4 separate regions of the Homo sapiens genome follow, and regions 1, 2 and 3 are each linked to region 4. Evidence: fine-mapped expression QTL. A gene starts in region 4. Each other region holds a variant in brackets. All regions are shown on one strand. Distances are from middle to middle.

Region 1 (5,433 bases), 93 kb before region 4:
CCCTTGTGGTGTTGCCAGACGGGCCTCATGGTCTGCTGTGCAGAGAGAGGCAGGAAGGATCCCTGAAGAGTCTTGGAGAAAAGGTTCTGTGCCCTCAGGTGGGGCTTACCCCCTCGTATTTATAATCTTAATTTATATAGTGACCACCGTGGAAACAAACGCCTCTTGTATTGTCATGTACATAGTCCATACCTGAGTGCTGTACATAAGTTGTTCTGTGTATAAATAAAACAAGCCTGTTTTTGATCTTCCATCGCCAGAGTCTTTGTCATCATTCCTTGTGCTTTGACATAAAGTGTTGGTTGCCGGAATCTTTCCAAACTGGATTCAGAATTGTTTTTCACCTGCTCTGAAAATAGGTTGAGTTGTTGGTGGCTAAAAAGCAAAACAGAATGCCATTAGCATGCCATCAGAATGCCGTTAGAATGCCATTAGAATGCTGTTGTATTTTTTAGGGTGTGGGTTCTGTGATCAGTTGGACTAAAAATTCCGCAAGGAGAGAGAGGGTACTGGGCAGTGCTGAGGCTCTCAGGTGTGACCACACAGCCTTGGCCCGGGAGAATGAGGGCCATTTTAACGAATATTTTAACCCTCTTAAATCTTTTCTATAAAACTGCAAACCTGAAGCTCTCCGACTTCTCTGCTTTGTCTTGGTACTTTTATTTCCAAGGGAACTGTCTACGATCAAGGCCACTTGAATTGTCTTCCCCAGTTTCCTGGAGTGAGGGATGGGGACTGCATTCATGGAAGACACCATCAGGCTGGTCGGGTACAGAAGGGCTGCATGTGCTCCGGGAGTGTTGGCTGCCTCCCTAGCAGCTCTTCCTCACTCCTTCCATGGTAACAAACCCCCCCGTTTTTTTTTTTCTGGTGTATATTCTCCTCTCTGGCCATTCAGGACTTCAGGCCTCATGGTTGCAAGATGGCCACCACAGCTCCAGGCATCACACCAGTGTAAGGTGTTTGGGGACAAATGGCTGCCTCTTTTATGTGTCACCTGCTCTTTTTGTTGTTGTTGTTGAAGATGAGGTCTTGCTCTGTCTTCTGGTCTGGAGTACTGTGGCATAATCGTAGATCACTGCAGCCTCCAAATCCTGGACTCAAGTGATCCTCCCACCTCAGCCTCCCTTGTAGCGGAGAGTACAGGTGCATGACAACATACCCAGCTAGTTTGTAAAATTTTTTGTAGAGACTGGGTCTCGCTTGCTTCCTAGGCTGGTTTTGAACTCCTGGCGTTAAGCGATCCTATGTGTGTCTCTTTTTAAGATAAAGGGAGCCCTTTCCGAAGCTCTGGCTTCAGCCGACCTCCTCTAATGTCTTGGCTAGAACTGCCTCACGCACTCATGACTAAACCAATCAGTGCGAAGGGTACGAGCTATTACGGTGATCGGGATGCTGACGGCTGACACTTTATAATTTGTGCCAGGTGTTGGTCTAAGTACCTTGAATGTACGAACTCCTCTAATTCCCCTCACAGCCTTACATGGTGGGTTATCTGCATTTTACAGGCGAGGGACAGGCTCAGAGAGGCGACACAACTTGCCCCATGAGGCACAGCCAGCGCGTGGCTGACATGGGAGGCAGAGGGCATATCTTTTCGACAGCCGTGCTCTCCCGTGTCCCAAGCCTCATAGCAAGCCCAGCCCACAAGACAGGTGAGGAAATTGGGCCCAAGTGACAGGCATGCTTTCCAGCACAGCAGCCGGGGCGCCTCACGTGCTGGGGGCACCAGATGCCCGGGCAGGGGCAGACCTGGGGGGAGGCTGGTGTGCGCTTTGCCAGCCTCACTCCTGTGCCCGCGTGGCTCATCTCACACGGGGCATGGCTCCATTGTGTGGGAAAGCAGTGAGGAGGGGGCTTCTCACAGAGACAGCATCTGACAGCGTGGGGAGGCCGGGCAGCGATCTAGAGTGGACGGGGCTGCAAGTGTAGCATGATCGCGAGACGGGACAGTAGAGTTGAGTGGAGAAAATGCAGCAGGGTCTATACTGTTTTTAAACTGATCCTCTTCAGAATTCCCCAACCACTTAGAAAAACAAACTGGGTGCTTGGTCCAGTAATGTTAACTGAACCCTGGATTTGTGGCCTCTGTTGTTTGCCAGAAGAGTTTTGCTGTGGTCCCCCCACCCCTTTGTGCCCTGGCTCCAGGTGGGCTCACGCGCGTTCCTTGGCTGTAGGTTACTGGACCCCACCCAGAGCTCTTAGACCTGGGCTAGGAGTGGGTGCAACTCGGAGTCGCCCCTCTGGGGTGGGGGCGGTGTGGCTGGGAGGGAGGTGCAACAGCCACACCAACACGAGGGTGCTGCCATCTTTGAAGCACATGCGTGTGAAGGACATGGGCACCTGGAAGCTCTGGGCAATGCACCTTCCCCTCTCCCCCGACTGTCATTCCATGGAGCCCACGGACATCACCCACTTAGGGCCCAGGGCTTTCACTGGTTTGTAGAAAGAGGCACTTGGTGGCTGCCTCGTGTGATGGAGCTGCTGGTGGCGTCTCGGCACCTGGGGAGGTGCCTGCGGAGACAGAACCACCTCAGAGCAGCACACTGGGGCGTGGCAGAGGCACCACTGTCCCCTGAGCACTCGTCTGGCCCCGCCCCAGCCTGGTGTGAGCTCATTGGTGGTCTCTTGTTTCCTGAGCCGGGAGATTGCCGTGTCTGCTCCTGCCACCCCAAGTCGGGGCAAGGACCTGCAGATGAAGGGCCCTGTCTGCCACACTCTGCAGCCATTGCCACAGGGACCTGGACGCATGGCAGCACGTGGGCGTGTGTGGTGGGAGTGGGGGAGGGCAGCGGCCAGAGGGAGCTGGAAGCAGTCTCTCTTTACTTGGATACTGAGGTCACCGCTTCACCCAGAATG[CGTTT/C]GTTATGGATTTTATTGAACCCTGGTATGGCCATGCTTTGGGTGGGTGCGTTATCCAGAACAGAACAGAATGATGGACCTGTAGGGTGAAGGGGCTGTTGTAAGTTGGTCCCTCACTGTTAAGTCTGTTCTGCAGGTTAAACTCACATCGATGGCGCCAAAATGATTTGCAAGGGAATTCTTGCCCCTCCCTTTTTTGGCTAGAAAAAGTCACTGTTGAATAAGTATGTTTTCTGTGACGACACCACCATTACGTATTTCCATAGAAGGAAAATAAAACCAGATTGATTACATCCAGTTTCTTCCAGTGCATTTTTCCCATGAGTCTGAACTTTTTAAAACCAAAGCAAACTTGTTATTTCTAAAGCAGCACTGCTGCAGTATTTCTAAATATAAACTGTTTATTTAGCATCTGAAGCAGGCTTGGGAAAAAGGGCCACAAACGTTCCTTATTTTATTTATGTATTTTTTTTGAGACGGAGTCTCGCTCTGTCACCCAGGCTGGAGTGCAGTGGCACGATCTTGGCGCACTGCAACCTCTGCTTCCTGGGTTCAGACGATTCTCCTGCCTCAGCCTCCCGAGTGGCTGGGACTACAGGCGCCCGCCACCATGCCCAGATAATTTTTTGTACTTTTAGGAGAGACAGGGTTTCACCATGTCAGCCAGGCTGGTTTTACACTCCTGACCTCAAATGATCCACCCGCCTTGGCCTCCCAAAGTGCTGGGATTACAGGCGTGAGCCACCGCGCCCGGCCAAAAGTTCCTCTCTTAAGCAAGCTGGGCACGAAGTAGCCGGCAACCAAAAGCAGCTAAGGGCTACAACTTTAAAAAATGGTTTATTTTTTTCTTTAACAAAATCGTACAGCTTTCTCAATCCCCAAATTAAAAAAACAGAAAACAGGAAGAAAGGGAAGAAGGCAAAGGCCACACGCACAGGCCGGCCCGGCCGCACGCGCCTGCTGGACGGCACTTCAGGGCACAACCCACACGCGTCTTTGGACTTGCAGACATTCCGCGAGGCTTCTGGCCTCTCGAAGGCAAAGCTTTTCAGCGATTTCATTAATATTTCATTACGCTGAGATGAGATGAAGGCAGATGCTACAGAAATATGTCAGTTAAAGCCACAGAAACAGAACAGCTTAAGAAGGGCTGGGCGCCCAGCTCGTCACGACACTTACAGCTCTGGCGTCATCAGAAGCCTCTATCATCTCCCTCTGCAAAGACGCAGTCTACACCCAGTGCGAGTCTCCTGAGCGGGGTTAGTGTTTGGGAGTGGGAGGCAGCTGCTAGTCAGAGTTGGGTCCTTAGGGCGCAGTGCTTCACGGAAACGCACAGACGTCTATGGCAGACGCTCTCAGACACGTGTGCAGAAGCGACGTGGCTTCTGTCTGGTAGGGGTTTGGACTGTTGGGAGGAGTATGAGGGACAAAGCAGGCCGCTGGCTCAGCATCAGCTTGTTGGAAAAGGGTCACAGGCAGGGGAGCGCCTGACTCCAGCGGTGTCCTTTCTGCCCTCACACTTCAGTGCTGCTTCCCATCAGTGACGGGGCTGACGAGAAACCGTGAGGCCCAGGTGACAAGCAGGCTCAGGACATGCGACACCGTCTTCGGGATGCTGCTTTCCGCTAAGCTGCTGTCTGGGAAAGTCAACCGTCTATGTCCCAAATCAATCAACTCAGTGACACAGGTACTATTATTTCTCACAAATGCCAATTAAATCCTTTAAGTTGAATAGAAATCTGGGTTGGATTAAGTGGGAAAACCCTTCCTTAGTTTACATTTTCTTTTTCTCAGGTGTTTTCATTGAGGCTACTCAGGAAACCGGTCAGGCTGCCCAGGACACCTGGAACCTGGGCTATGCCAGGCCTGTCTGCCACAGCCCTGCCTGCCCCGCTTCCACACAGGAAGAGAGGCTGAGGCGCTGTGGACGGCAGCAGCTGCAGTCCTCGGGATCCAAGGACCTTCTGATCACAGAGCACCCAGGATAAGCTGGACCCTTGGCCTGCGGGCTGACGTGCAGCGGCTGCCCTTGCTTAGCAGAGCGACTCACCCTCGGAGGCCACCCTGTGTGGCTCCTCCTCGTGGAAAGAGCTCGCACTTTTCAGCATCGCAGTTTTAACTCAGACCAAAGGGCAGACGTGGAGCATGCGGGGCCGGAACGAGTGGGGGAAATGAAGTCCTGAAAGCAGACCCCACTTCTGCCCGCTTCTGCTCAGCACCAGCGCGGTGGCGCAGTGGCCTGAGACACTGTGAGAAGCCGGTCAGGGCGAACGAGAGTCATCTGAACACGGAGGAAAGTGGCTGGCCTGACCCCACACACCTCCCACAGCGGAGCAACGGCATGCCGCTGCCTCCATACCTGCGGTTCACGCACACGTTGTGCATTTTCTGGTTAAAAGAAAAAAAAAGGCAGCTGGGGCCGGGTGCTGTGTGAGAGAGCCCAGCACCTACTGGCAGCTGGGTGGGCGACATCCAGAGCTGCACCAGCCCCCGTGGCTGCCACGTGTTGCAGAGCTAAGTGACTACATGCACTGGCCAGGCCTCAGAGGAGCCGTCCCTGTGCTCAAAGGA
Region 2 (5,433 bases), 180 kb before region 4:
TCATCGGTAATGGGGAAAAGGAAAAAAGGGTCACAGAGACAGCCGCGTTACAGCTGGATATCTCTCTCTCAGAAAGGCGGAGGGAATCACGGGGCTATGAATTTCATCTTCTTATTATTAAATAATTTTTATTCTTTAAGTATATTGAAGTTCTTTTTTTTTTTTTTTTTTTTTTTGAGAGGGAGTCTTGCTTTGTCGTCCAGGCTGGAGTGCAGTGGCGAGATCTCGGCTCATTACAACCTCCGCCTCCTGGGTTCAAGCAATTCTCCTGCCTCAGCCTCCCAAGTAGCTGGGATTACAGGTGCCTGCAACCACGCCTGGCTAAAATTTTTATATTTGAGTAGAGATGGGGTTTCACTATGTAGGTCAAGCTGGTCTCGAACTCCTGACCTCAAATGATCTGCCTGCCTCTGCCTCCCAAAGTGCTGGGATTACAGGCATGAGCCACCGTGCCCGGCCTAGAGATGGGGTTTCACCACATTGCCCAGGCTGGTCTTGAACTCCTGACCTCAAGTAATCTGCCCGCCTTGGCCTCCCAAGGTGCTGGGATTACAGGCATGAGCCACTGTGCCCAGCCAAAGTAGAAGGAGCTGAGCTTCTTGATGTGTGAACAGAAATGGGAAATTCTTTATTTTTAGGCTTTCTAGCAATTAACCTTGTTTCTGTGTGCCCTATTGTAGGTAGATTTAAAGCTAGAAGCACCAGGTGGGTGCTGCTGGAGGAGGAGCAGCCAGTGAAAGTCACAGATTACTGCCATGTTTAAGCGGATGTGGTGTTAGACATTCAGACACCAGTGTGTTGGCTGGGATTCTGAATACCTGTGTTTTTTATCAGGATTGGTGTCAGTACTAATATTTTGGTATTTAAGAAATCTGGAGTCTGAATAATTTACATTTTGAGACATATCCCTAGAAAGTTACTGCATTAAAATTTGAAATGGAACAAAGCAGCTTGTTTAGAAAGGGTTCTGACCACTTCCCTCAATTAAAAAAAAAAAAAAACACGACAAAATAACCTTTTACAGTTAGTTCTGGTGGTGCGGGGAGGGGAAAGGTTACTTAAAAGATTGAGTTTCTTTTCTGAGTTATTAGTTTGATTTTCTCCAGGGTTCCTCATAGAGCCATCGTAGAATAGAGGGGATGGTATAAGGGAAACAGGAGGCAGGGGCTGTGCCGGGGGACCCTGTAGGGAGTGGAGAGGGAGACGGGGGAGGTCCCCAGGCCTGACTCCCAGCCCTGCCCTGGAGCATCTTTCTCTCCAGGACCAGGATCCTTCTGCTCTACTCCCTTGTTTCCTTTCACGGCCAGACCCTTTCCATTTGGACCTGTCTCTCTTCTCCAGAAGAATTTGTTTTAGCCAGGACCTTCCCCCTCCATGTGCTCGCTGGAGGAACAAGCCAGGAGGACACGGAATCCTCAGTCCAGACCCCGGCCTTCCCTCAGCTAAAACACTGTGTGAGAACATACTTCACATGTAAAAGTGAATACTGGTATTGACAGTAGTAAATACAGAAATACCAGCATTGGGTTGTTTGCTTTGGTTCTCTCTCTTTCTTCCTTCACTAATGCAATGACAATGTTTGTAGATTTTTTTAAAAAAATCATGGCACTATACCTGTGAGCCCGAGCTTTTGGTTAGAAGCAGGTGGGTGGGTTAATTTGGATTGGCTTATTGATTGGATGCTACAGTTTCAAGGTACTGGGGCTTCTGTGGGTGCTTGTTAGGGATCATTGGGGTGTGGTGGGCAGCGCTGGCTAGTGCTTAGGGATGTACCTGTCTTTATGTGCCTTAGTCCCTGTGTTTGTCTCTTTCTAGTCAATCATATTTGATGAGGTGGATCTGACAGATGCCAGCGTAGCTGAATCCAGTACCAAAAACGTCAACAACAGTTTTACGGTAAGATTCCTCAGTCATGCCTTTCTTGATTCTTCACTGAAGTTGGCTTTCCTTTTTGATCTGAACATGTGTCCAAGCAGTTCAAACGTTTTCATTCTTTTCTTACTGATTGGAATGATTGCTGGTAAAATTTGAATTTAATGCTGAAAGTAATACTGTGGTTGGAGAATAACCAAGAATTTGGCATGCATAAGCACAAAAGGACAATAGGGACCAAATGAAAAATTTTTATATGTGTTTTGGTTCACGTCTGTTTTGTTTTTTTTGAGACGGAGTTTGGCTCTTGTTGCCCAGGCTGGAGTGCAATGGCGTGATCTCCAGCTCACAGCAACTTCCGCCTCCCGAGTTCAAGCGATTCTCCTGCCTCAGCCTCCCGAGTAGCTGGGATTACAGGCATGTGCCACCACACCTGGCTAATTTTGTATTTTTAGTAGAGACAGGGTTTCTCCGTGTTGGTCAGGGTGGTCTCGAACTCCCAACCTCAGGTGATCCACCCTCCTTGGCCTCCCAAAATCCTGGGATTACAGGTGTGAGCCACCACGCTTTGCTGGTTCACATCTTACTACCTCTGTACAGAGTTTTGTTTTTTGTGATTAATGTAGAAAATTTGGAAAATGCAGACAAGTATGTTAAAGCAATTAAAAAGCAGCCATAACAGCCACCTCAAAAAACATTGAATGTTAATATTTTGGTGTATTTCTTTTTTTTTTCCTTTTTTATGTTTAAACTTTCTTCCTTCCAAATTTATAAAAGTTATGTAGGACTTTCTGCAAAAGTTCTAAATGCACAGAATCATGTGATCTCACCACTTGGAAGTGGCCAGCTGCTTACTCTACAGTGTTTATCTTTATTTCTGTATATTTATGTCTTTACCTACATGTACCCATGAGATCATGCTGAACCTTTTGGTTTACACCTGTGTTTTTTTCCCCCCCCAGGACAATTTATAGTAGAGAGTTGCTCATGTCAGCTGATCTAAATGTTCATGATATTATTTAATGGCTATAGTAGCATTTTCTTGTAGGATTTTATAATTTAGGCTTTACGGGCTGACTTTAGCGCCTGCCTGTGTAAGGTTTGACTCTAATAACAGCACTAGAACTTTTAAAGCTGTTTTTCTTT[A/G]TGTTATTAGGCCATCCCATGTAGACAAAAAGTGTGTACCCTAATTAAAAAAATTATTCTTTTATAATTCAGTCAAGGTGAGTAATTTTCCTCAAGTTTAGGATCTGATATTTTGGGTTAGTGCTAGTTTCAGGTGCTTTCAAGTTTTGTTTTATTTTATTTATTGATGGATTCATTGTTGATGTTGCCAATACAAATGGGATTTTCCTTTCTCTGTCTAAACCTCTGCTTATTTTGTGTTGATTAACTGCTCTTATTTTACTTGGAGTATTTGTAGTTTTCTCTATTAATTTATTTTTACCAGCTGGGAAGAGACATTTTTAACCACATAAATAGATTTTTCTTTGATTCGTGGTTTTTAGAGTCTTTAATAGGAGTAGGTGTTGAATTTCTTTGGAGTGTTCTGAGCATCAGTTGATTAATTAATGAATTTTTTTGAGATGTTGTCTCCCTTTGTCACCCAGGCTGAAGTGCGGTGGTGTGATCTCGGCTCACTGCAACCTCCGTCTCCCAGGTTCAAGGGATCCTCATGCCTCAGCCTCCCTAGTAGCTGGGATTATAGTCGTGCACCGTTATGCCCAGATAATCTTCGTAATTTTAGTAGAGATGGGGTTTCACCATATTGGCCAGGCTGGTCTCAAACTCCTGGCCTGGAGTGATCTACCCGCCTGAACCTTCCAAAGTACTGGGATTACAGGCATGAGCCACTGTGCCTGGCCCTGGGCATTAATTTAGATGTTCATTTTGGTTTCAGTTATTTGCATATTTCCTAATAAAAAAATTATTCTTGGTAATGTTGAATTTTACTCCTTTATCTTGCAATTTAGAATTTTCCCACTGGTATGTATGCATTTGTTTTGGGTGAGAATGTAGCCTTATTGCAGTTTTAAACAATTGTTTTTTCTGTTTTTAATTTTAATGGATACATAATAGTTGGACATACTGTGTTTTGATTTCAGAGTTAAACCAACCCCATAAAATTCATTTAGTAACTTTCTATGAGTTTATGTTTTCTGCAACATTTTATGTAGCTTTGGGATTGGTTGTTTCTTAAGTTCGAGAGAATTTATTTTAAATTATTTGTCAAGAAGACTTTTTAGGGAGATAAGGCTGTAATAGAAATAAATCCTAAAATATTTATTTCTTGCATTTTGATCATTTTTTGAACCTTTTCACTTTTTGAGTCCACATCTGTAATTTACTTTCCCACAAATTTCACACCTTCAAAGTTAGTAGCGTGTACTGTTGTGTAGTTTAAACACCTGTGTCTCTGGTTGAATCTCCTTTGCATTTCTAATTTTATTAGTTTAGTTTGCTTTTCTTGTCAGATTTCGTAAACTCTAGCATTTTTGTTTTCTTTGTTTTTAAAGAGAACTAGTTCTTAGATTATTGAACAATTCTCCTTTTCTGTTTCCTTTTTTATTTTTTTGAGACGGAATCTTGCTCTGTTGCCCAGGCTGGAAGGCTGGAGTGCAATGACGTGATCTTGGCTCACTGCAACCTCCACCTCCTGTGTTCAAGCGATTCTTCTGCCTCAGCCTCCTGAGTAGCTGGGATTGCAGGCACCTGCCACCACGCCCAGCTAATGTTTTTATATTTTCAGTTAGAGACGGGGTTTCGCCATGTTGGCCAGGCTGTTCTCAAACTCCTGACCTTGAGTGATCTGCCTGCCTCAGCTTCCCAAAGTGCTGGGATTACAGGTGTGAGCCACCACGCCTGGCCTGTTTCCTTTTTTTTTTTTTTTTTTTTGAGACAGGGTCTTGCTCTGTTGCCCAGGCTGCAGTATAGTGCTGTGATCTCGGCTCATGGCAACCTCTTCTTCCTGGGTTAAAGTGATTCTCCTGCTTCAGCCTCCTGAGTAGCTGGGATTACAGGTGTGTCCCACCACGCCTGGCTGATTTTTGTATTTTTAGTTAGAGATGGGTTTTCGCCATGTTGTCTAGGCTGGTCTTGACCTCCTGACCTCAAGTGATCCTCCTGCCTCAGCCTTCCAAAGTGCTGGGATTACAGGTGTAAGGCACCATGCTGGGCCCTACTTTCCTGTTTTCTAATTCAGTGTCTGTATTTATGTGTATTGGTTTTTTTTTTTTTTTTTTTAGATGGAGTCTTGCTCCGTTGCCCAGGGGGGAGTGTAGTGGTGTGGTCTCGGCTCTCTGCAGCCTCCGCCTCCTGGGTTCCAGTGATTCTCCTGCCTCAGCCTTGGGTAGCTGGGATTACAGACACATGCCACCATGCCCAGCTAATTTTTTTATTTTTAGTGGAGACAGGGTTTCACCGTGTTGGCTAGGCTGGTCTCGAACTCCTGACCTCAGTGCCCACCTTGGCCACCCAAAATGCTGGGATTACAGGTGTGAGCCACCTTGCCCGGCTGTGTATTAGTTTTTATCTGTTGTAACTTACGAAATATGTTGTTCA
Region 3 (5,433 bases), 30 kb before region 4:
GTGTATGAGAACAGAGGGTAAAACAGCCTTGCAGCTAGTTTGTTTAAGGTACAAAAAAGTATCAACAACTTGAAAGCTTTGAGTAATGAACTTTCTTTTCATTTTTTGTTCTTTGGGTTTTTAAGTAATGAACTTTCTATATAGCCACGTTTTTCTTTGTTTGATAGTTGAGAATTAACTCTTTTAAGCCTCAAACATCAGTGCAGTCTAGTCCCATTAATGACAAAGAAATTTTCTTAGACTAATCTTCCTAATAAAAATGATAAACTCTAGGCAAAAAAGGAAAACAACTGTTGGGAAAGGAACCCAAAGTAGGCATAAAGTGAAGATATAATACTTCAAAGAAGGGAAGCAAACCAGGTGAGTTCTGCACTCACCTACCTACTACCCAGTTTGTAGCAGTGCATGATGGAACAGATTTCAAGAAAAGGCAAGAGTCTTACTGGGATGAGGGGACAGAATCTGAGAATACCAGAGAGGCGAGATCCCACGAAGGAGCCCCAATTCTGTAACAAATCCCCCTAAATCCTTGGCTAACTCCTAAATGGTAGAATGGACAGCTCAAAGAGCCCAGCAGAGAGTATCAGTTAGGAGGTTCAATATCTGAGCAGGGCTGCCTGATGCCAAGAAGAAAGAACAAGGAGTTCAAGTCCTACCAAATTAGAAAGAGATAGCAAACTTTTTCTTAAAGAGCCAGATGGTAAATATTTTAGAAGCAAAACTGAGAACATTACTTAGTACTCACTTCACCTTTTAAAAAGTAACCATTTAAAAATGTAAGGCATGTTCTTAGCTCAAGACTATAAGAACAGGCAGCAGGCCACATTTTGCCCACAGGCCATAGTTAGCTGAGCCCTACTGTAAGAGGAAGGACCATGACCCAGGGCTAAGCTATTCCCTGGAACTAAAGCCAAAATTGTAACAGACCCACCCTAAAGCCCAAAATTTAACTTCCACAGAATCTAAAAGACTCAAAGGTAATTTGAGGGCTTGTTAGAATGCAATGCAAAGCTCTTCAGAGAAAAATAACATAATCTAGACTCTCCACAACACATCATCCACAATATGAGATTATATGGAGCAGGGGGGCAAGACATGGGGAGATGATGGTCAAAGGATACAAAGCCTCAATTCAATGGTAGGAATAAGTTGTTTTTCTTAAAAAATCTATTGCACAGTATGGTAAATACAGAAAATAATAACATACTGTACATTTCAAAATTGCTGAGAATAAACTTCACCACAAAAAATAAGTATTTGAGATGATGGATATGTTCATTAGATTTTTCTGTATTGTATTTGCAAATTAAAACATCAATCTGTACCCTTATAAATATATACAACTAAAATTTATCAATTTGTAATTAAAAAATAAAAATTTATATTGAAAAGATTATATGACATGCAAAGAAACAGGACAATGTTATTCATAATCAACAGATGGAATGGTCAATTCAAAAGAGAATAAAAGAGTCAACAGAATCAAATTCAGAATTAATCTAGCTACTATAATAGCAAACAGCTATTATAAATATGTTAAAGAATTTAAAGGAAAAGATGAATAGAATGGGTAAAGAGAAGGGGAATTTCAGCAAAGAAATGTACACTTTAAATAAGAGCTAAGTGGAAAGACTACAACTAAAAAGTATAATATCTGAAACGTATAGCTCATTTGTTGGTCTTAACAGAAGAGTGGCTCAGTGGAAGAAAAAATTAGCAAAGCTGAGGACAGATCTCTGGAAATTGTCCAAATTGAAGTAGGAAAAGAAAAAAATTAAAGAACAAAACACCAGTCTGGCCAACATGGCAAAACCCTCATCTCTACAAAAAAATACAAAGAATTAGCTGGGTATGGTGAAACATGCCAGTAATCTCAGCTACTCGGGAGGCTGAGGCTGGAGGACTGCTTGAGCCTGGGAGGCAGAGATTGCAGTGAGCTGAGATTGTGCCACTTCACTTCAGCCTGGGCAACAGAGTGAGATCCTGTCTCAAACAAAACAAAACAAAAGCCCCCAGAACATCCAAGACCTGAGAGGACATATCAAATGGTCGAATACATACAGTTGGTCCTCAGTATCTGCAGTTTCCAAATCCACAGATTCAACCAACCATGAATCAAAAACATTAAAATAAATAAACAACAGTATAATAGTGAAAAATAATAAAAACTTAAAAATACAGTACAACTATTTACATAGCATTTATATTGTATTAGGTTTTTTTGTTTCCTTTTTTTTCTTTTGGAGACAGGGTCTCATCCTGTTGCCCAGTCTGCAGTGCAGTGCATGATCATAGCTCACTGCAGCCTCAGACTCTTGGGCTTAAGCAATCCTCCACCCCAGCTTCCCAAATAGCTGGGATTACATGTGCGCACCACCGCATCCAGCTAATTTTTAAATTTTTTGTACAGATGGGGTCTTGCTATGTTGCCAGGACTGGTCTTAAACTCCTGGGCTCAAGCAATCCTCTTGCCTAGACCTCCCTTTTGCTGGGATTACAGGTGTGAGCCACCACGTCCAGGCTATGTTAGGTATTATACGTAATCTAGTGATAGTTTAAAGAATAGAGGAGGATGTGACTAGGCCATATGCAAATACTATGCCATTTCATGAAAGAGACTTGAGCATCTGCAGATGTGGGTGTCATCTGGGGATTCTAGAACCAATCCCCCATAGATATGGAAGGATATAGTTAGACTCCCAGAAAAAGAAAGAGAGATGAGGCAGAAAAAGAAATTGAAGAAATAATGGCCAAAATTTTTCCAAAATTTTAAAAAAGACTTTGGACCACAGATATTAAAAATACTTAGCAATAGAATGTAAATAAACACAAGGAACACAATACCTAAATACATTATTGTCAAACTGCTGAAAACCAAAGATAAAAAGAAAATCTTAAAAGTAGACCAAGAAAAAGAAACATTACATTCAAGAGAATGAAATAAAAAATGACAGTTGGCTTCTCATCCAACATACTGGAAGCCAGAACACAATGGGCCTCTTTAAAACACTGAGAAAAACACAAAAATGATTAACTTATAATTCTGTATCTATCAAAAATATCACTAAAAAATGGAGGTAAAATAAATATTTTCAGACAAAATCTGAAAGCATTTTTCACCTGCAATTCTGAACTTCAAGAAATGCTAAAGGAAACTCTCTAGGTTGAAGGGAAATGATATTAAATGCAAACCTGGATAAATAACGAGCAGTAAACTCCAGAAAAGATAAATACGAAACACTATTCTTTCCTTAATTTCTTTAAAAGTCACTAAAGTGTTTAAGCAG[A/T]AGTAGTAACATATAGTGTAATTTACATTACATGTAATGGTAAAATATAAGAAGGCAATAGTAGGAAAAATGGGAATGGGAAAATGAAATTATACTATTGTAAGCATCTTACAGTATACATAAAGTGGTATACTATTAATTTGTAATTTATCATGTTAATTTATATATAGTGTAATCGCTAGATGAAATTAAATAGATTAAAAAGCCAACAAAAGAGCTAAAAATGGGACACTAAAAATTTATTAATCCAAAAGAAGGCAGGAAAGGAAAAAGAAAATAAAGAATAGAGGAGAAATAGAAAACAAATAGCAAGATGAGAGATTCAAACACAGCCATATCAATTATATTAATGTAAATAACTAAACATTCTAATAAAAAGGAAGAGACTGTCAAACTCTCTGTCATTTGACAGAAAACAGAAGAGCAGAGAAAATCAACACAGGCAAAGTCGTTTTCTTGAAAAGTTTAATAAACTTGATAAACCCCAGCAATGAAAAAGAAAGCTAAAAAAAGACAAATTATCAATATCAGAAATGAAAAAGGAATCATAAGTTCATATTCTACAGTCACTAAACGGATAATAAGGTGAGATTTTAAACAACTTTATGCCAACAAATTTGACACCTCAGATAAATGAACAAATTCCTTAAAAACCATAATTTTCCAAAATAAACAAGATCCAACTTCATACTGAGACACACATGTATAAGAAAGCTTATATGGCTACATTAATACCAGACAAGGTAGATTTCAAGGCAAGGGATATTAGCAGAGATAAAGACAAGCATTTCTGGTGTGGTGGCTCATGCCTATAATCCCAGCACTTTGGGAGGCCAAGGTGGGAGGATCTCTTGAGCCCAGAAGTTCAAGACCAGCCTGGGCAACATACGGAGACACCATCTCTACAAAATGAAAAATAAAAAAAAGAACACATAGCCAGGTGTGGCCAGGTGTGCCTGTGGTCGCAACTACTCAGGAGGTTGAGCTAGGAGGATCACGTGGGCCCAGGAGGTCAAGGCTGCAGTGGGCTGTGACTGTGCTCCTACGCTTCAGTCTGAGTGACAGAGCAAAACTCTGTCTCAAAAAAAAGGCAAGCATTTCACGCCAGGAGGCAATAACAATCCTAAATGTGTATGTACCTAATAATATAGCTTCCAGAAGATACATGAAGCAAAAACTGTCAAAACTTTTTTTTAAAAAAATGAGACAAATCCACAATTATAGTTGGGAGATTTAAAAATTCCTCAGTAATTAATAGAAAAGGCAAAAAAAAAAATAAGAAGAATAGAGAAGAAACAAAGAACACAATCAATTTGACCTAGTTGTCACTTGTGAAATGCTACATCCAATAACTGCAGAAAACAACCTCTTTAGTGAACACAGAACATTGAGCAGGATAGACAACACTCTGAACCGTAAAACAAGTCCTAAGAAATTCAAAAGAACTGAACTCATATAGAGTATGTTCTCAAAGTACAATGAAATTAATTAGAAATCAATTTACTGACATAACAAAAAGATAACTAGAAACCCCCTAAATATTTGGAAATTGACCAACACACCTCCAAAGAACTCAAGAGCCAAAGAAAAAATAAGAGAAATTAGAAAATATTTCAAACTGAATGAAAATGAAAGCTTGTTGAATATAACTGACTATATTCAACAATATAACTATAATCAACAATATAATTTGTTGAATATAACTAGTGCTTGGAAGAAAATTTATAGCTTTAAAAGTATTAGAAGGTTTAAAAAAAAAACTGAGTTACCAACCCAAGTAGCTAGAAAAAGATGATCAAATTAAGTCCCAAGAAGTAGAAGAAAATACTTTAAAATAAGAACAGATATCAGTGAAATAGAAAATAGAAAAGCAATAGAGAAAATCAATAGCATTGCATCAAATTATATCTAAGGCAAAAGCTGGTTTCTTGAAAAGGAAAAAATTAACTTGATGGCCAGGCAGATCACTTGAGTCCAGGAGTTTGAGACCAGCCTGGGTGACATGGCAAAACCCTGTCTCTACAAAAATTAGCTAGGTGCAGTGTCACATGCCTGTAGTCCCAGCTACTCAGGAGGCTGAGGCAGGAGAATCACTGGAGCCTGGGAGGTGGAGGTTGCAGTGAGCTGAGGTCGTGCCGCTGCACTC
Region 4 (5,433 bases):
GAAATATATAGAGAGAAACAGGGGCAAGAAATCAAGGGTCCAGTAAGGTCAGGCTGGCTTCCTGCAGTTGATTTCTGAGATCCCCTATATTCTTACAATAACCCCCCTTTTAAATTTAGCTAATTTGGGTGGTGGGTCTGTTTCTTGCACACAATCCCTTACCTAAAATCTCTGGGTCTTTGGAATTCAGAATTTCCAGAGTTTATAAAGATAATATGAAAAAAGTGTTTTTTATATATATATAAAATGTTACATTCCCAGCAGGGTCTGGGCCAGCTTCCATTAATCAAGCAGATTAATATTCCTGTAATGAATGTATGAACATTCACCCACATGAGATAACTAAAAACTGTAAATAGCCTCACACCAGGTCTGGTTCTGAAGCCAAACAAGCTCAGGTGAGATCAGATGAGGGTGTGAGCTTTCCAGATTTCAGAAATGCGTATGAACAACTGTGCACCCATATAAATAATATGACACCCTTCCCCACTCCAAAAGGTAGATATAATTGGTTGGATAACTCTGGCTTAAGTGTTTGTTATTCTAGAGAAATCTTAAAACTCAAACAGTGTAACAATAATGAAGACTGATACTTATGACAATTGTCTTTACGTTGTACTTTAAATTACAGGAATTAAAAAAGAAATATATTGCTTTATTTTTTTACTAAACATTATTGTCATCACCCAGGATATATTTAAGATTAAGCTTCACATTTCTCTGCAGAGGGAATTACCAATTTATATCTTATATGTGCAACAATAAACACATACTGTAGAATATATCTTTAAGATAATTGGTCTATTTGTGATTTTGCATAATTAATTACATGTAAAGAAGATGGTACATATTGCTAGTTAAATGTACGTAACATAGCATACCTCTGAATTCAGGTGTGAAATGAAGAGTCTGAAGAAGGGAATTGAGGTAACAGGTTCCACCCTGATTTCTGATTCCGCTTAAATTGGTGAATTCTCTAGGAGCAGGTGGCTCCAAAGCTTTAGTCTTTAATTTCTTCCCTTTTCCATACTGATTATTAGACACAGTGGAATACTCCTCTTCAAACAGGTCCCCAAACATTGTGAAACTAAATACTACCCTTAAAAAAAGTGACATATAAATGCTTTTATTTTTAAAATAAATTTTCCCCAAATCCCCCTACCTTACACTTGGGAGTCGATTCTGTTGTTTCTTAGAACACAGGACTACTGTTTCTATGTACAGTAGTTGGGTTTTGGAGGCAGCAAGATCTAGATTTTTTTCATCCCTATCAGGACCCTAACTACCTGTGTGACCCTGGATATGTTAATCTGTTTTCTTATGTGTAAAATAGGATACCATCTGTCTCTTCGGGTCATTTAAACTATCCAATGACATAACGAAAGAAGGGCAGTTAGTGTACAGGGTTTGGCCCACAATAAGTAACAGCTGTTTTTAAAAAGGCACGTTCACATCACTAATTTTTTTAAAAAAGAAAACCTGTTGCCACAACTAATCCACTGCTGGGACGGCAAAGCCAACCCTAAATTCTGAGAATCAACTCTCTAAAATCTCTGCTTGTCACACCCTTCAGTACTATATACCAGATTATGACATTTAAATTAAACAGATCAAGTTAACTTTTTTTAGAGCACTTTAGTACAGTCCCGAAGCTGTTGGGCCGGAAGTCAGTTCACTGGGGAGGGAGGGGGGAAGGGGAGCGGAGGGCGGGGAAGACTGCCACTAAAATTATCAAGCCTAAAGGCCTTCCAGTATGTATCCACTAATCCCATCGTTAGCCCTGGGGGCCTAGGTGACTTCCCCAAGGTTTCACATCGAGTGTGGCGGAGGGTCACTTGGAGATGAGAAACGTAAAGCGCCTAGCATAGGTACCAAATGACAGGAAGCGCTGAAATGCAATTATTTTTCTTTTCCTCAGAAGAAAACTAAAAAAACACAACTCGAGAGTCTAGCCTCGAGCTCGTTGTCTGCATTCCTGAATTCCCAACTCCTACGGCCGGCCGAGGCCCTCCAAGCCACCACAGGCCCAGGGGCGCAAAAAGGCAGAGGTCCCCGTGGCCCGAAACCACTGCCCCGACTCCAGGAGAGCGCCGCGTCCTCAGGCAGGCCTGGGCAGCCTCTCGCCTCGCCCTCCTCAGACTGGGCCACCAACACTGTCCCTACGCTTCCCACGTCCCTCCCAGGATCCCCGGGCGCCAGCCGCACTTACTGCCTAAAGCCCAGACCCCCGCCCTGGCCAAAACGCGAAGCGAACGAACCCGCCCCAACTGGGCGCCGCCATGTTGGCGAGGGCGGGTCTCCAGAAAGTGATTTATGGATCGTGGACTATGCTTCCCAGGATGCCCCGCTGGAGCGCCGGCCCCTCGCACGGGGCCTTATGGGAAATGTAACTCTTCTGCTCCAAGAGTTTGGGAACTGGAGCGGGAGCGGGAGCGGGCAAGGTGAGCTCGCTTACAAGTCCGCTGGTGAGTTCGCGGGTCCACTCGGCCAGCGGACCACTCATTCGTTCACATTTATAAGATTATAGCTATATGATCTTATATAAGATTATAGCTATATGATCTTATATAAGATTATAGCTATATGATCTTATATAAGATTATAGCTATATGATCCTTATATAAGATTATAGCTATATGATCTTATATAAGATTATAGCTATATGATCTTATATAAGATTATAGCTATATGATCTTATATAAGATTATAGCTATATGATCTTATATAAGATTATAGCTATATGATCTTATATAAGATTATAGCTATATGATCTTATATAAGAGTATAGCTATATGATCTTATATAAGAGTATAGCTATATGATCTTATATAAGAGTATAGCTATATTATAGCTATATAACCTTATATAAGATTATAGCTATATAACCTTATATAAGATTATAGCTATATAACCTTATATAAGATTATAGCTATATAACCTTATATAAGATTATAGCTATATAACCTTATATAAGATTATAGCTATATAACCTTATATAAGATTATAGCTATATAACCTTATATAAGATTATAGCTATATAACCTTATATAAGATTATAGCTATATAACCTTATATAAGATTATAGCTATATAACCTTATATAAGATTATAGCTATATAACCTTATATAAGATTATAGCTATATAACCTTATATAAGATTATAGCTATATAACCTTATATAAGATTATAGCTATATAACCTTATATAAGATTATAGCTATATAACCTTATATAAGATTATAGTTATATAACCTTATATAAGATTATAGTTATATAACCTTATATAAGATTATAGTTATATAACCTTATATAAGATTAGTTATATAACCTTATATAAGATTATAGTTATATAACCTTATATAAGATTATAGTTATATAACCTTATATAAGATTATAGTTATATAACCTTATATAAGATTATAGTTATATAACCTTATATAAGATTATAGTTATATAACCTTATATAAGATTATAGTTATATAACCTTATATAAGATTATAGTTATATAACCTTATATAAGATTATAGTTATATAACCTTATATAAGATTATAGTTATATAACCTTATATAAGATTATAGTTATATAACCTTATATAAGATTATAGTTATATAACCTTATATAAGATTATAGTTATATAACCTTATATAAGATTATAGTTATATAACCTTATATAAGATTATAGTTATATAACCTTATATAAGATTATAGTTATATAACCTTATATAAGATTATAGTTATATAACCTTATATAAGATTATAGTTATATAACCTTATATAAGATTATAGTTATATAACCTTATATAAGATTATAGTTATATAACCTTATATAAGATTATAGTTATATAACCTTATATAAGATTATAGTTATATAACCTTATATAAGATTATAGTTATATAACCTTATATAAGATTATAGTTATATAACCTTATATAAGATTATAGTTATATAACCTTATATAAGATTATAGTTATATAACCTTATATAAGATTATAGTTATATAACCTTATATAAGATTATAGTTATATAATCTTATAAATATGAATGAATGAGTGGTCACATTTATAAAGATATAAGATTATATTTATATAATCTTATATCTTTGTCTTTCGTCTGTGAATCAAACTAATGGCATGTCAAAGTATTGTCTGGACAATCCTTTCATTCCATAGCTTCCTCTCCTCCTATCAGATCCCCATGAAATCTCACCTGCATTAGGATGATAGCCTTTTCAGTGGACTCCCGTTTTACACACCCCTTCCTGCACGTCACTATAAGATGCACTATCCATCTAAGGTGCACTTTGAGCTCAAACCTCTCTGCTAAAGAAGCTTCCACGATTTCTCAACATCCACTGTGGAAATTCTTTATTTTGATTCTTAGTTCGCTGATGGTCCCAACATTCTTTTCATACTGTATTTCTCACTACACACCTATTTACCAAAGTGCTTTCAAATGTGCCATCTATAAAGCTGCTAATCCCTGAGCCTTTAAGGGAAAAGATAAACACCAGCTGCAAGTCTTTTTGTTTTATGATAAAAAGCCCTGTACAACGAAAACACTTTTTCTGGTTTGGTTCCATGAAAACCAATGCTCTGTCCCTGAAGTCAGGAAGTACCTTGCCAGTAAGGGACTTCCTTTTAAATTGCTTTTGATATTGGACAATGTCCCTGGCCACCCAGAACCCCATAGATTCTGCAATGAGAGCACCAAAGTGGCCTCCTTGCCCCTAAACACAACATGTCTAATTCAGCCCTTAGATCAAGGGGTCATAAGGAACTTTAAGGCTCATTACGTACGGTTTTCTATGGAAAGGGGTGTCAACACTATGGAAGAGAATCTCAACAGGGAGAATATCGTGAAAGTCCAGAAGGATTACACCATTGAAGAAGCCCATGTTGTTACAGAAAAAGCTGTGAAAGCCATCAAGCCCCAAACAATACATTAGTGCTGAAGAAAACTGCGTCCAGATTCCAGATGTTGTGTGTGAGTTCACAGGATTTACAACAGCCTATCAAGGAAGTCATGGAAGAGATTGTGGATATGGCACCAAAAAAAAAAAAAAGAGGCATAAAGTGTTTGAAGATCTAGATCTTGGGGAAATTCAAGAGTTAATAGATACCACATCTGAGGAATTAACAGAAGATGACTTGATGGAGATGAGTGCTTTTGAATCAGTACCAGAGAATGAGGAAGAAGATATAGAAGAAGCACTGTCAGAAAATGAATTGACATTAGACAATCTTGCAGAAGGGTTCTGATTATTTAAGACTGCTTTTGACTTCTTTTACAACTTGGACCCTTCTATGATACGGGCATTGAAACTAAAGCAAATAGTAGAAGAAGGATTAGTACTGTATGCAAGCATTTTTATTTATTTATTTATTTTTATTTTATTTTTTTGAGACAGAGTCTTGCACTGTCACCTGGGCTGGA

What was found. PIP is the estimated chance that this variant, and not a neighbour inherited with it, causes the effect. A credible set is the group of variants that fine-mapping cannot tell apart.
Region 1: its variant is the best candidate, but not a certain one, in a credible set for the expression of USP40 in whole blood (TOPMed, PIP 0.51).
Region 2: its variant is the best candidate, but not a certain one, in a credible set for the expression of USP40 in cerebellar hemisphere (GTEx, PIP 0.89).
Region 3: its variant is the best candidate, but not a certain one, in a credible set for the expression of USP40 in lymphoblastoid cells (GEUVADIS, PIP 0.75).

Annotation. Positions count from the first base shown.
Region 1 is chr2:233,471,846-233,477,278 of GRCh38, forward strand. It overlaps USP40 (ubiquitin specific peptidase 40), which reads right to left. Exons shown (of 32, transcript NM_001365479.2): 32 at 3,681-5,433. DGKD (diacylglycerol kinase delta) reads left to right here. Exons shown (of 30, transcript NM_152879.3): 30 at 1-253. Among named protein-coding and RNA genes, the nearest start is that of USP40, 92 kb to the right of the region's middle. RefSeq lists an enhancer at 2,012-2,611. The variant CGTTT/C (reference allele first, on the strand shown) is at 2,860.
Region 2 is chr2:233,388,588-233,394,020 of GRCh38, forward strand. It overlaps DGKD (diacylglycerol kinase delta), which reads left to right. Exons shown (of 30, transcript NM_152879.3): 3 at 1,816-1,896. Among named protein-coding and RNA genes, the nearest start is that of DGKD, 37 kb to the left of the region's middle. The variant A/G (reference allele first, on the strand shown) is at 3,019.
Region 3 is chr2:233,534,661-233,540,093 of GRCh38, forward strand. The region is part of intron 10 of USP40 (ubiquitin specific peptidase 40); the gene reads right to left. Among named protein-coding and RNA genes, the nearest start is that of USP40, 29 kb to the right of the region's middle. The variant A/T (reference allele first, on the strand shown) is at 3,288.
Region 4 is chr2:233,564,475-233,569,907 of GRCh38, forward strand. It overlaps USP40 (ubiquitin specific peptidase 40), which reads right to left and starts at 2,308. Exons shown (of 32, transcript NM_001365479.2): 1 at 2,210-2,308; 2 at 882-1,099. The coding sequence starts at 1,080.